Regions from separate parts of the Homo sapiens genome. Here region 2 is linked to region 1. Evidence: fine-mapped expression QTL. A gene starts in region 1. The other region holds a variant in brackets. All regions are shown on one strand. Distances are from middle to middle. Region 1 holds the start of PTPRB (protein tyrosine phosphatase receptor type B). Region 2 has its middle 72 kb from the start of PTPRR.

Evidence for each region. PIP is the estimated chance that this variant, and not a neighbour inherited with it, causes the effect.
Region 2: its variant is the best candidate, but not a certain one, in a credible set for the expression of PTPRB in visceral fat (GTEx, PIP 0.76).

What each region holds. Positions count from the first base shown.
Region 1 is chr12:70,635,288-70,640,677 of GRCh38, reverse strand. PTPRB (protein tyrosine phosphatase receptor type B) reads left to right here and starts at 3,249. Exons shown (of 34, transcript NM_001109754.4): 1 at 3,249-3,337; 2 at 4,612-5,007. The coding sequence starts at 3,283. PTPRR (protein tyrosine phosphatase receptor type R) reads left to right here. Exons shown (of 14, transcript NM_002849.4): 14 at 1,401-2,599. The coding sequence ends at 1,494.
Region 2 is chr12:70,989,747-70,995,136 of GRCh38, reverse strand. No RefSeq gene overlaps it. Among named protein-coding and RNA genes, the nearest start is that of PTPRR, 72 kb to the right of the region's middle. The variant C/T (reference allele first, on the strand shown) is at 2,577.

The DNA.
Region 1 (5,390 bases):
ATTTTGAATGATACTAACAACCACTTGGAAAAATCTGGTTAAAACATAGAGTTAAACTAAAAGATAAGATCAGTTGCATGATTGCAGAGTTACAGAGAATTTACAAGACTTTAAATAGTTACCGATAGTGATGCTTTTATACAGTGAGCAGGAATAGTAACATATTAATGTCTGGTAACTTTGTCAAGCTAAAAAATCATAATTATAGGACTGGACACCGTCGTTCAAGCCTGTGATTCCATCACTTTGGGAGCCCAAGACAAGAGGATCACTTGAGTCCAGGAGACCAGCCTGGGCAACATAGTGAGGCCTTGTCTCTACAAGAAAAAAAAAATTTAAAAATTGTCCAGGTGTGGTGGTGCCTGTGGTCCCAGCTACACCAGAGGCTGAGGTGGGAGAATTGCTTGATCCCAGGAAGTTGAGGCTGCACTGAGCTGTGATCATGCCACTGCACAACAGCCTAAGCAATTAAGGAGACGTTTTCTCAAAAACTAAAATTAAAAAAGGATCATAATTATGAAGGGGGAAAATGTGATATAGGTATTATGTATATAAAAACATAATGAGAAGCACCGTTATTTCTCATGAAGGCAAGTGCTTTCTATGAATCCATTGACAAGGAGGGTGCTGGGCAGCTAGTGATGATAATGGTGATAACCAAGAGGAAAATGTCACAGCAGAGCCAATTCCCTTTTTCCAACTCATTTAAGGACCCACCCACTATTGTGTTTAGACACCCCGTACACCAAAAGGCTAAGGTTGCTTCTGTACAACATATTCAAATAAACCATTCCAAGGTAGACTTCATTTTACTTGTAGAAAGCAACATTTTGCAGATGAGTTTTGTTTGGTTTGTCTCCGTCAATCAATTTTAAGCCAAATGTATAAACCATTTTAACAAGAGATGAATCATGAGGCACCTGAGAAGTAATACAAATATACCAGCTACAATGAATTTATTTAACCTTCACAGCAGTAGTTACTGTTACTATCCTGCTTTAACAGAGGAAGAAACTAAAGTGCAAGGGGTTTCGAGGAATTTGTCCAAGATGCATACAGCTAAGAATTGGCAGAGGAGGGATTTGAACTCACCTTGGCTGATGCCAAATCCAAGTACTTGATCATTAGGCTGTACCACCTCCCCAGTAATGTTACACAGGTAAAAATTAATCACGTGCCTAGTGTGTGCTGGGAACTGTGTTAAGCCCTTTATATACATTACCATGTTAACTTTGATAGTTGAGACATTTGGACACAGGTAAGAGGGATAACAAAAGAACCACTAGGTCGACTGTTCTATGTGTCTTTGGCATAATACCCTAGCTTGGATGAAATCTCTGTGTTACTTGAAATTGCAAGATTTTAGCAAAATCAGTTATTTTATGATTTCTTCCTTGCAGAGGTGGAATGGTGCAAACCAGTGAGCAGTATGAATTTGTGCACCATGCTCTGTGCCTGTATGAGAGCAGACTTTCAGCAGAGACTGTCCAGTGAGTCATTGAAGACTTGTCAGACCATCAATCTCTTGGGGTGATTAATCAAATTACCCACCCAAGGCTTCTAGAAGGAGCTTCCTGCAATGGAAGGAAGGAGAAGCTCTGAAGCCCATGTATGGCATGGATTGTGGAAGACTGGGCAACATATTTAAGATTTCCAGCTCCTTGTGTATATGAATGCATTTGTAAGCATCCCCCAAATTATTCTGAAGGTTTTTTGATGATGGAGGTATGATAGGTTTATCACACAGCCTAAGGCAGATTTTGTTTTGTCTGTACTGACTCTATCTGCCACACAGAATGTATGTATGTAATATTCAGTAATAAATGTCATCAGGTGATGACTGGATGAGCTGCTGAAGACATTCGTATTATGTGTTAGATGCTTTAATGTTTGCAAAATCTGTCTTGTGAATGGACTGTCAGCTGTTAAACTGTTCCTGTTTTGAAGTGCTATTACCTTTCTCAGTTACCAGAATCTTGCTGCTAAAGTTGCAAGTGATTGATAATGGATTTTTAACAGAGAAGTCTTTGTTTTTGAAAAACAAAAATCAAAAACAGTAACTATTTTATATGGAAATGTGTCTTGATAATATTACCTATTAAATGTGTATTTATAGTCCCTCCTATCAAACAATTACAGAGCACAATGATTGTCATTGGGTATATATGTATTTACTCTCTATTATTGGGCATAAAGGTGGCTTCTGCTCCAGAACTCTATCCACTGTATTTCCACATCGTGAGTCATTTTACTTTAAAAGGGAAAAACAAATTTGTAGCAACTCTGAAGTATCAAGAGTTTTAACTACTTGTCTCTCTTTTGCTAAGAAGGGATTTTTGAATATGCTATCTACCTGGAATCTCTCTCTCAACAAAAGGTATATGCCTTCAGGAATGATATAATCTGTCCCATTTTCGAGGCTCCTTATAAGGACATTTCCATGTATGTCCTTACATTTCTGAAAGCTTTCAATCTTCAAGAGACAAAAAAAATTAAAATAACTACCCTCAGCAAACACTAGCTGTTCTGCTCATATATGAATTTTTAATGCAGCAATGTTGACTTTGTTTCATACTGCCAATAAACTCTTAATACTAAATACTGAGTAAAGCATATTCTTTTTTTTTTTTCTATTTGGAAAGACGCCATCCTCTGTTTGGGGAAGACCAAAGTAGATAATGTGATGGGTTTAATTTTAGTGTCTGCATCTCCCCAGTGAAGATGACGATCTCAAAATGTAATATTGTCATCACTTGGGAGATAATGATCTAGAAGTGCCATCATTATGTGGTTTTCCTCAATAGACTCGCAGCATATCATTATACAAACAGTACATGTTTATGTCTTTATATCACTTGTCATAGACCCTCATCAATTACATGGCTTATGTTTATTCAGCAGAATCACATCACCTGAAGAGATGTAATGTTTCAGGAACATTCAATTATCTGAGATTTCAATTCCTTTCTTTCTTCTTGAGGTTAAGAAGCAGTCACATGCCAAAGGAAAGGTAGGTGAGGTCTTAACGAGATTTACTCTGCTCTTGAAGGCTGGAATATTTTCTACATTAAAAAAAAGAGGTAATCATAATCCCTTCTTTCTAAGGAAACAGACAAAAGGACACTGGTGTAAAACTTCCCCAAACAATTCAATAGGAGGAAGTGCTCGTCACTGACTTTTCCCCCCACCATGAAGGCACATTTCCTTCCTAGTCTTTGCTTCTCTTATCTGGGAGAATTTTTTTTTTCCCCAAGCGAAGCATGAACAGTTGCTAAGTGGAAAATGGAGGCTGAATTTTACATGGTGATTCTTACCTGCTTGATCTTCAGGAACTCAGGTGAGTGGGTCTGCCTCAGTGTCCTGAGGCATTTCTTCAAGATCTAGCCAAGGAGTCCCTGGTCTTTGAAGTGTCTGAAATAAGGTAGAAGGGGCCAGGTCTCCATGGCAGTTTAGCCAAAGACGATGAAAAGCAGGAATAAAAGGAGCCAGCTATGCCCATACTGTTGAGATTTCTCTCCAAAAGAAAATAAATGCTCTCCTCTCATCCTCCAAATGCTTCAGGCAGCCCCTGAAATGATACATTTAGAGCAGAGCGTAAAGAACCCCGAGGAAAAGTTTGTATTATTATATAACAGTCTGTGGCTTTCCCCAAGCCTTTTTCCGACCCGGTTATAGTTTTATTTTCTTTTGTGTTGAAGAAAGAAAATTGAAGGAATATGATTAAAGGGGGTGAGGAAATGTAGTGTGTTTTATTTGGAAGTTGTCATTTGGGAGGGCTGAACATTTTCATGAGCGAGCTGGGCAATTTAAGTAAAACCTCATTGAAAATGGTTTCTGAGCCAGAGTATCTTGCTCTTTAATACTGATGTTTAGCAATTTGATGTTTAATTTTCTTACACTGGCACATGATGATTTTTAGAAAATCTATTCGTATTTGAGAGAAAACTGTAGATATTGTCATAAAATAGAGAAATGCTCCTCTCCACGACTAAAGGAAATTTAGTTTGTGATAATCAATACTTTCATTGGCTGCAATTAGCTAGGAGGTTGTGCTTGGAGAAGTGGGAAAATTTGTTTTATTTTTTGATAAATGTATGCAATTTTAAAAAATTGTTATTCAAACTATGAAATTTGTATATAAATACTGCAATGTGAATTTAAAGACTGGAAAAGGGGGTGCTTTTTTAAGGTAAGGGAGGAAGCTTATATCGAATATGTCAAATGGTTAAAAAGGGAGCTGAGCATTTCATAACTTCAGCATATCTAACTAATTGGGCTAAAATATACTATATACTTTGGATGGTTTTGTTTCTTTCCAAGCTTCCTTTCATTTTCCAATAAGAGGTGTGCTTTTTTCCCCTAAAGCATGTGAAAATTAAAAAAAAAAAAAAGATGGGGAGTTAAGTGTAACATATTGACATTTTATATCGTCAGCTTTGGAATTTTAAATCACATGTGTTAAATATGAGAATGTTCACTTGAAATGATAGAAATAACAAAATATAAGTAAAACTAGTGATTTTATTTAGCTCATTTGTGGGTGGGTTCTTCCGTTTTCTAATGGGCCTCATAATTTGCTACATAGTGCTTTATGAGCTTTTCATCTTCCAGAAGGGTTTCAGATTGTCCATGTCCAGAAACAACAGTGTCTTTTCAAAAATGAGAAAGTGGTCGTGGGCTCATGCAACAGGACCATCCAGAACCAGCAGTGGATGTGGACTGAGGATGAAAAGCTCCTTCATGTTAAATCTGCACTGTGCTTGGCCATCTCCAACTCTTCCCGCGGCCCCTCCCGCTCAGCCATCTTGGACCGCTGTTCCCAGGCACCCCGATGGACCTGCTATGATCAGGAAGGCTTCCTTGAGGTGGAAAATGCCTCTCTCTTTCTCCAGAAACAAGGCTCCAGAGTAGTGGTCAAGAAGGCCAGGAAATACCTCCATAGCTGGATGAAAATAGATGTCAACAAGGAGGGAAAACTGGTCAATGAAAGCCTCTGTTTACAAAAAGGTGAGCTATTCCTTTCAGAGCAAATCCTGAAAGTCTTTCTACTAAATATCTTGGGGGTTTTGTTTGTTTGTTTGTTTGTTTGTTTTACATTTAAGGGAAGTCCACATGCCCCAACATATTTCCTATGGAAGATTCATAAGCTAATGGAGGTGGATGGTGACGTGCCCAATGATGGAAAACTTCATGACCCTCATTAAAATAAGCCCAACTTTTTCTATTGCTTTTTCTTCCTTCCCTTCTTGTCTTGCTTCTTTTATTAATTCAACAACTATTTCATGAGCCTCTCTTCTCTGCCAGTTAAGCACTGTTAGATGTAGGAATATGGATGTAGGCATATACACAGCCTATATATGTAATGACTAAAGTCAGTAATCGGAAAATTA
Region 2 (5,390 bases), 350 kb before region 1:
CAGGCCCAAGCCATCTTCTGTCTCAGCCTCCCGAGTAGCTGGGACCATAGGCATGCGTCACTATGGCCAGCTAAGTTTTGTATTTTTTGTCGAGATCGGGTTTTTCCATGTTGTCCAGGCTGGTCTCAAACTCCTGGGCTCAAGAAATCCACATTCCTCAGCCTCTCAAAAGTGCTGGGATTACAGGTGTGAGCTGGCAACACCAATTCTAGTATCAAATTCAAAATTAATTAGGCTGTAGATACAATCGTTGTTATAGGGTTCTGAAATAACAGTAGTTTAAACAAAATGGCTTATTTCTGGCTCACATGGCAGCCCAGGTGAAAGGCATCCAGTGTAGGAAAGGCAGCTGTGTGGACAATTTCCACCTTGTGGATTACGATGATTTCTTCAGCTCTAGTCATCATATCCACATTATATCCACTGGAAATGGGAAACAATTAAGGGGAATGCACATTGCTTTCTCTTAAATGCATGACTTACTTTCATAAGTAAACAGTAACTGATTTTTTAGCAACAATTATATGGCTTATGCTCATGTTGCATCAGCCAGGACTTAATCACATAACCGCACCTCATTGCAAGGAAGGCTGCCAAATAAAGTCTTTAGCTGGACAACCATGATTCCATTTTAACTATGGATGGGAGAAGTTGAAAAGACAGCATTGCCATTCATCTTCTTTACACACATTGAGTGGCTTTCATACTCACTTCATAACGATTCCCTTCTTAGGAACTGAATAGGCAAGGCTGAACTGAAATGATGTTCATACATTCCAGCATAGCAGAGCATTTTTGAAGAACTTCTGTTTAGTTTGGCAAAGAAAATTGGCCTTCTGGAAGGAACAGTGTGTATTTCTTGGTCTTGAAGATTTCGTAATATTTCCGTAGACCACAAAACTAATAGGACAACTATGAACAGAATATTGGAAATGACAAAGGCCAAAAGAGTGTCTCCCAAATAAACATTTATTTTTTACTCTTCCTTTCTAGACTTGCTTTCTAGAAACCGCCCTCTTCTTTTTGATTTCTGTGTGGTCTTTCATTGATAACACAGATAGAAAGAACATAGCATTAAAATCTGGATTCAAATCTTTTTATTGTAGTCAATGTGGCAGTGATAATTTTCACCTAGGCAAATAATATTAGACCTGACAAGGTTTAGGAGTCACAACTATTCAGCAAAGTGTATTCATTTCCTTATATTGTGAATTGAATAGTAGTGTTGGAACACTAAAGCTTATTAATTTCACTATGCATAAAACTAGGTCTGACTGCTAGCCCAGTTGTAAATACAAAGTAGTGGTAAGTGCACAATCTTTGGGTCAGACAGACCGTGGTTCAAATGGGACTCTCTTATGTATGTCTTAGCCATTCACTTATATATAGAAGGGTAAGCATCCTTTTTCTTATCTCTTGAAATTTCGTATTCATGATTTCATCTTCAACTATCAGTTTTTAGTATATATCTCTAGCTCAGATATTTCTCCTAACCCTTTTCCTGCTACATTTCATTTTTTTTTTTTTCTAATCACTCAGAGAGTTAGGGATAATCATTGAACTTACCAAGGCTATTAGGTGACTAAATGAGATCACATGTAAAAATTGCATGACAGTCAAAAGATAACTATTACTACTGTGTTCATGTGGGATGAACAAATTGATGCCTATCATTTATATTATACCTCATAAGACATGGTACAAGGTTTTGTGTGTGTGTGTGTGTGTGTGTGTATTTGTAATATTATAATAAAAATCATTCAAATTAACACAGATACACTAGGACATTTTTCTTTAAAAAGAACCTATAATTGAAAAATACCACTCTGCCTAGCCTAGACTTTTGCTTATTTCCTGTACAATACTTTGCATATAATACTTGTAGAGGTAATGAATGTTTGGAATTTGTTTGACTGAATTTATTAATGTTCAGATTTTAAAATAAATTTACCTTAAGACTTGCTACCATTAATAAGTTAACATGTTAATACATTAATAGTAATAACGTTACTATCTGTATGTCAATCACCATTAAGTAAACAACATACATTTCTCATTTAATCTTCACAACTATACTCAATGGGAGCTCTGATTGTTATGTTACAGATTAATACACTGGTGTTCAGAGAGGTTAGCTCACTTACACACAAGCACATGGCAAGTAACTGAGAGAGGCAGTAGAGCTCAGGCTGGTTGACTCCAAAGTTAATTTTTACCCAAAATACTGTATATAAAATTTAAAATATGCATGAAAATGGCAAAATGGTGGTATAGTAGTAGTATTTACATCAATAACACAATGTTAGAACTTGAAAAACATTATCCTCCAACCAGCCTGAGAGCCAGTATTTATGGTCTTGCTCTCTGAAGCAAAGTATACGTGTAGAAATGTGGAATTCACCTGCAGTAGGAAGTGTCAATCAAAATTGTCAAGTGTATCTTACTGATGCTTTTTGGCTTCTTCTTGCATTTTCAATTTCATTTGGTTCTAAGAGTAGGAGAACAAAAGAGGAAAAGGAGATTCAAAGAACTAGAGTTCTGATACACATAATTCTTTTATTCCCCATGCCAAGCTT[C/T]AAAGGAAAATACTCTCCAGTTCCATCCTTCCTTGACTAACATATGCAGAGAAATGATAAGTCATCAGAATGATCAAATGCACTGGAGAGATTCTGTGAACAATAAAACAGCAGCTACAGCATCTCGGCAGATCAATGCTATTATAAAGGAGATTTTCAGTTTACATTTTTAGCTATCGTTTAGGAAGGTGGTCATAAAAATGGTACTGGACTCTTCGAAAAAAAAAAAACCTTCTCATTAAAATGTAATGGGACTGTTTAAAATATTCAGAAATGGTAGCCTGGATAGGGTCACTGTTTTGGCAGTGTATTATTTTTCTATTGCTGTAGAACAAATTATTAGAAACTTAGCAGCCTAAAACAACATGCATTTAGCATCGCGAAGCTTCTGTAGGTCACACATCTGAGCACGACATAACTGGGTCCTCTGCTCAGTGTCTCACAAGCAGCAATTGAGGTGTTGGCTGGAGCTGCAACCTCATCTGAGGCTCAGAGTCCTCTTCCAGGCTTCTGTAAGGGTTGTTAGGATTCAGTTTCCTACAGTTGAAGGACTGAGGGCCTCAATTTCTAGAGGCCATTCTAGAAAAGCCTCAAAAATGTAAACTACTTAACAGTGAGAGAAAGCAGATTCGTGATTTTCCAGGGAAGGAGGCAGGGGAAGGAGGAATGGATTACCAAGATGCAAGAGAACAATTTCAAGAGAATAGATTTGTTAATTATCTTGAGCATGGTGAGGGCTTCAAAGGTGTATTAAAATTCAACAAGTTATATAGCTTAAATATATGTAGCTTATTGTACGTCAATTATATACCAATAGCTTTTAAAAAACAAATATAATGGAAAGTGACCATTGTGCAGCATATACTCAAGTCTTCTGTGACAAAGAACTGAGACCTCAGCTTGTCACAGTGGAAACTAAATTATGTGGCAGGACAAGTTGGCTAAGACTTAATTCTTCAGTATCTATTTTTGAGCACCTGCTACATGCCTTGTTCTACATCAGGCATTTTGTATGTACTGTGTTATAATATTGTCATGATAACTCTGTGATGCAGTAACTTTGGGTGGCTTAGGTCACTCTTTCCATTAGATAAGTGTTTTAAGACCCTACACACAGGCCAGGCGCGGTGGCTCACGCCTGTAATCCCAGCACTTCGGGAGGCCGAGGCGGGCAGATCACGAGGTCAGGAGATCAAGACCATCCTGGCTAACACAGTGAAACCCCATCTCTACTAAAAATACAAAAAAAAAAAAAAAAAAAAAAAAAAAGCCGGGCGTGGTGGCAGGTGCCTGCAGTCCCAGCTACTCGAAAGGCTGAGACAGGAGAATGGCATGAACCCGGGAGGCGGAGGTTGCAGTGAGCCGAGATCACGCCACTGCACTCCAGCCTGGGCAATGGAGCGAGACTCTGTCTCAAAAAAAGAAAAAAAAAAAGACACTACATACAAAAACATTAACAACTTTTTGCTCCAGTTTGAAATCCAGTGTTCTGAGAGATGCCACACACAGCAAGGGCCTCTGATTTGTAGAATACTACCAGATGTAATTGTCTGGATTTGTAATCCAAATCTTCCTTCATAAAAGATACATAGGCACATAGGTCTGAAATGAGCAATCCTAACATAAGATTTAGAAATGTCCAGTAGCTATATAACTACAATTTTCAGAGTCATGGAATGATATATAGATATATATATGGGTTTCTCTGGTTCTGAAAGTACAGAATTTAGGGAAGAGAAAGGGAGAAATTTTTCATTCCCCTGATATTTAAGTCTATGAACAACAAAATTTCTGTCCAGTAGAAGGTACTTTATGAAATGTATAAGTTAGCCTAACATTTTGCTACCACTATTTAGCCCAATGGGTGGAAAGGTCAGTGTTGTCAACTGGAAGGGAAAACCATCTTGAGATTGGGTTGTGGAAAGACGTCAAGATCTGAGATAACATTGACCCTGGAGCAGTGAATTCCCAAATGTGTAAATAAGATGTATGAATAAGGAGGAATATCAGAATCGGAAGAGCACTTTCAAAGCACTGCTGTAATGCTAAAATGGAATGGTTGGAAGGAGAAGGTAGTGTCATCATTATGTCTTAATCAGGCCTACAAACTTGTCAGAATAAAATCAGATGAGTGAGGTGATCCATGACTCTGAAAACTGTGGTTATATAGCTATTGGACATTTCTAAACCTTGTGTTAGGATTGCTCATTTCAGACCTATGTGCATATATATATATGCACGCACACAGGCACAAAGTAGTATGGTTTGTGGAATTTCTCTGATCGATTATGCACATGAACAGCAGACACAATGGGAAGATTCAGGAAACTGGCTATTGATCACACATACCAGTCTAATCCAACCATGAAGTGGAGCATAACATGAGTGAAGATATGTCAGGGACTTTAGGAAGGCTGGCTCTTTAAAAATTGTTTCATGTTTCACATGTCATACGTCTTAACTTCATTTGGAAGCTCTGCTCACTATTAAATAAAAAAAGTCTCTGAAAAAGTTAATATGTGTAGGTTCAGAACATTTTGAGAGTTGAGGAAAAGCTAGTAATGGGGAAAGAATTATTTGGTTTCACAAATTTGTGAAGAAAGTTTACAGTAATTTTTAGGAATAATTATAATTTGCAATTATAGTTAAATAATTATATAATTACAACTTGGTTATAATTATAATTATAGTTTTATAGTCTTTATAAAATTATAATGTTTTCTGTTGATAAATCCTTGAGATTTAGTACTTACATTGCTTTTTGGTCTTCACTTCCAATGAAATATTTTTATGACATAGGAAAATTGTTAATAT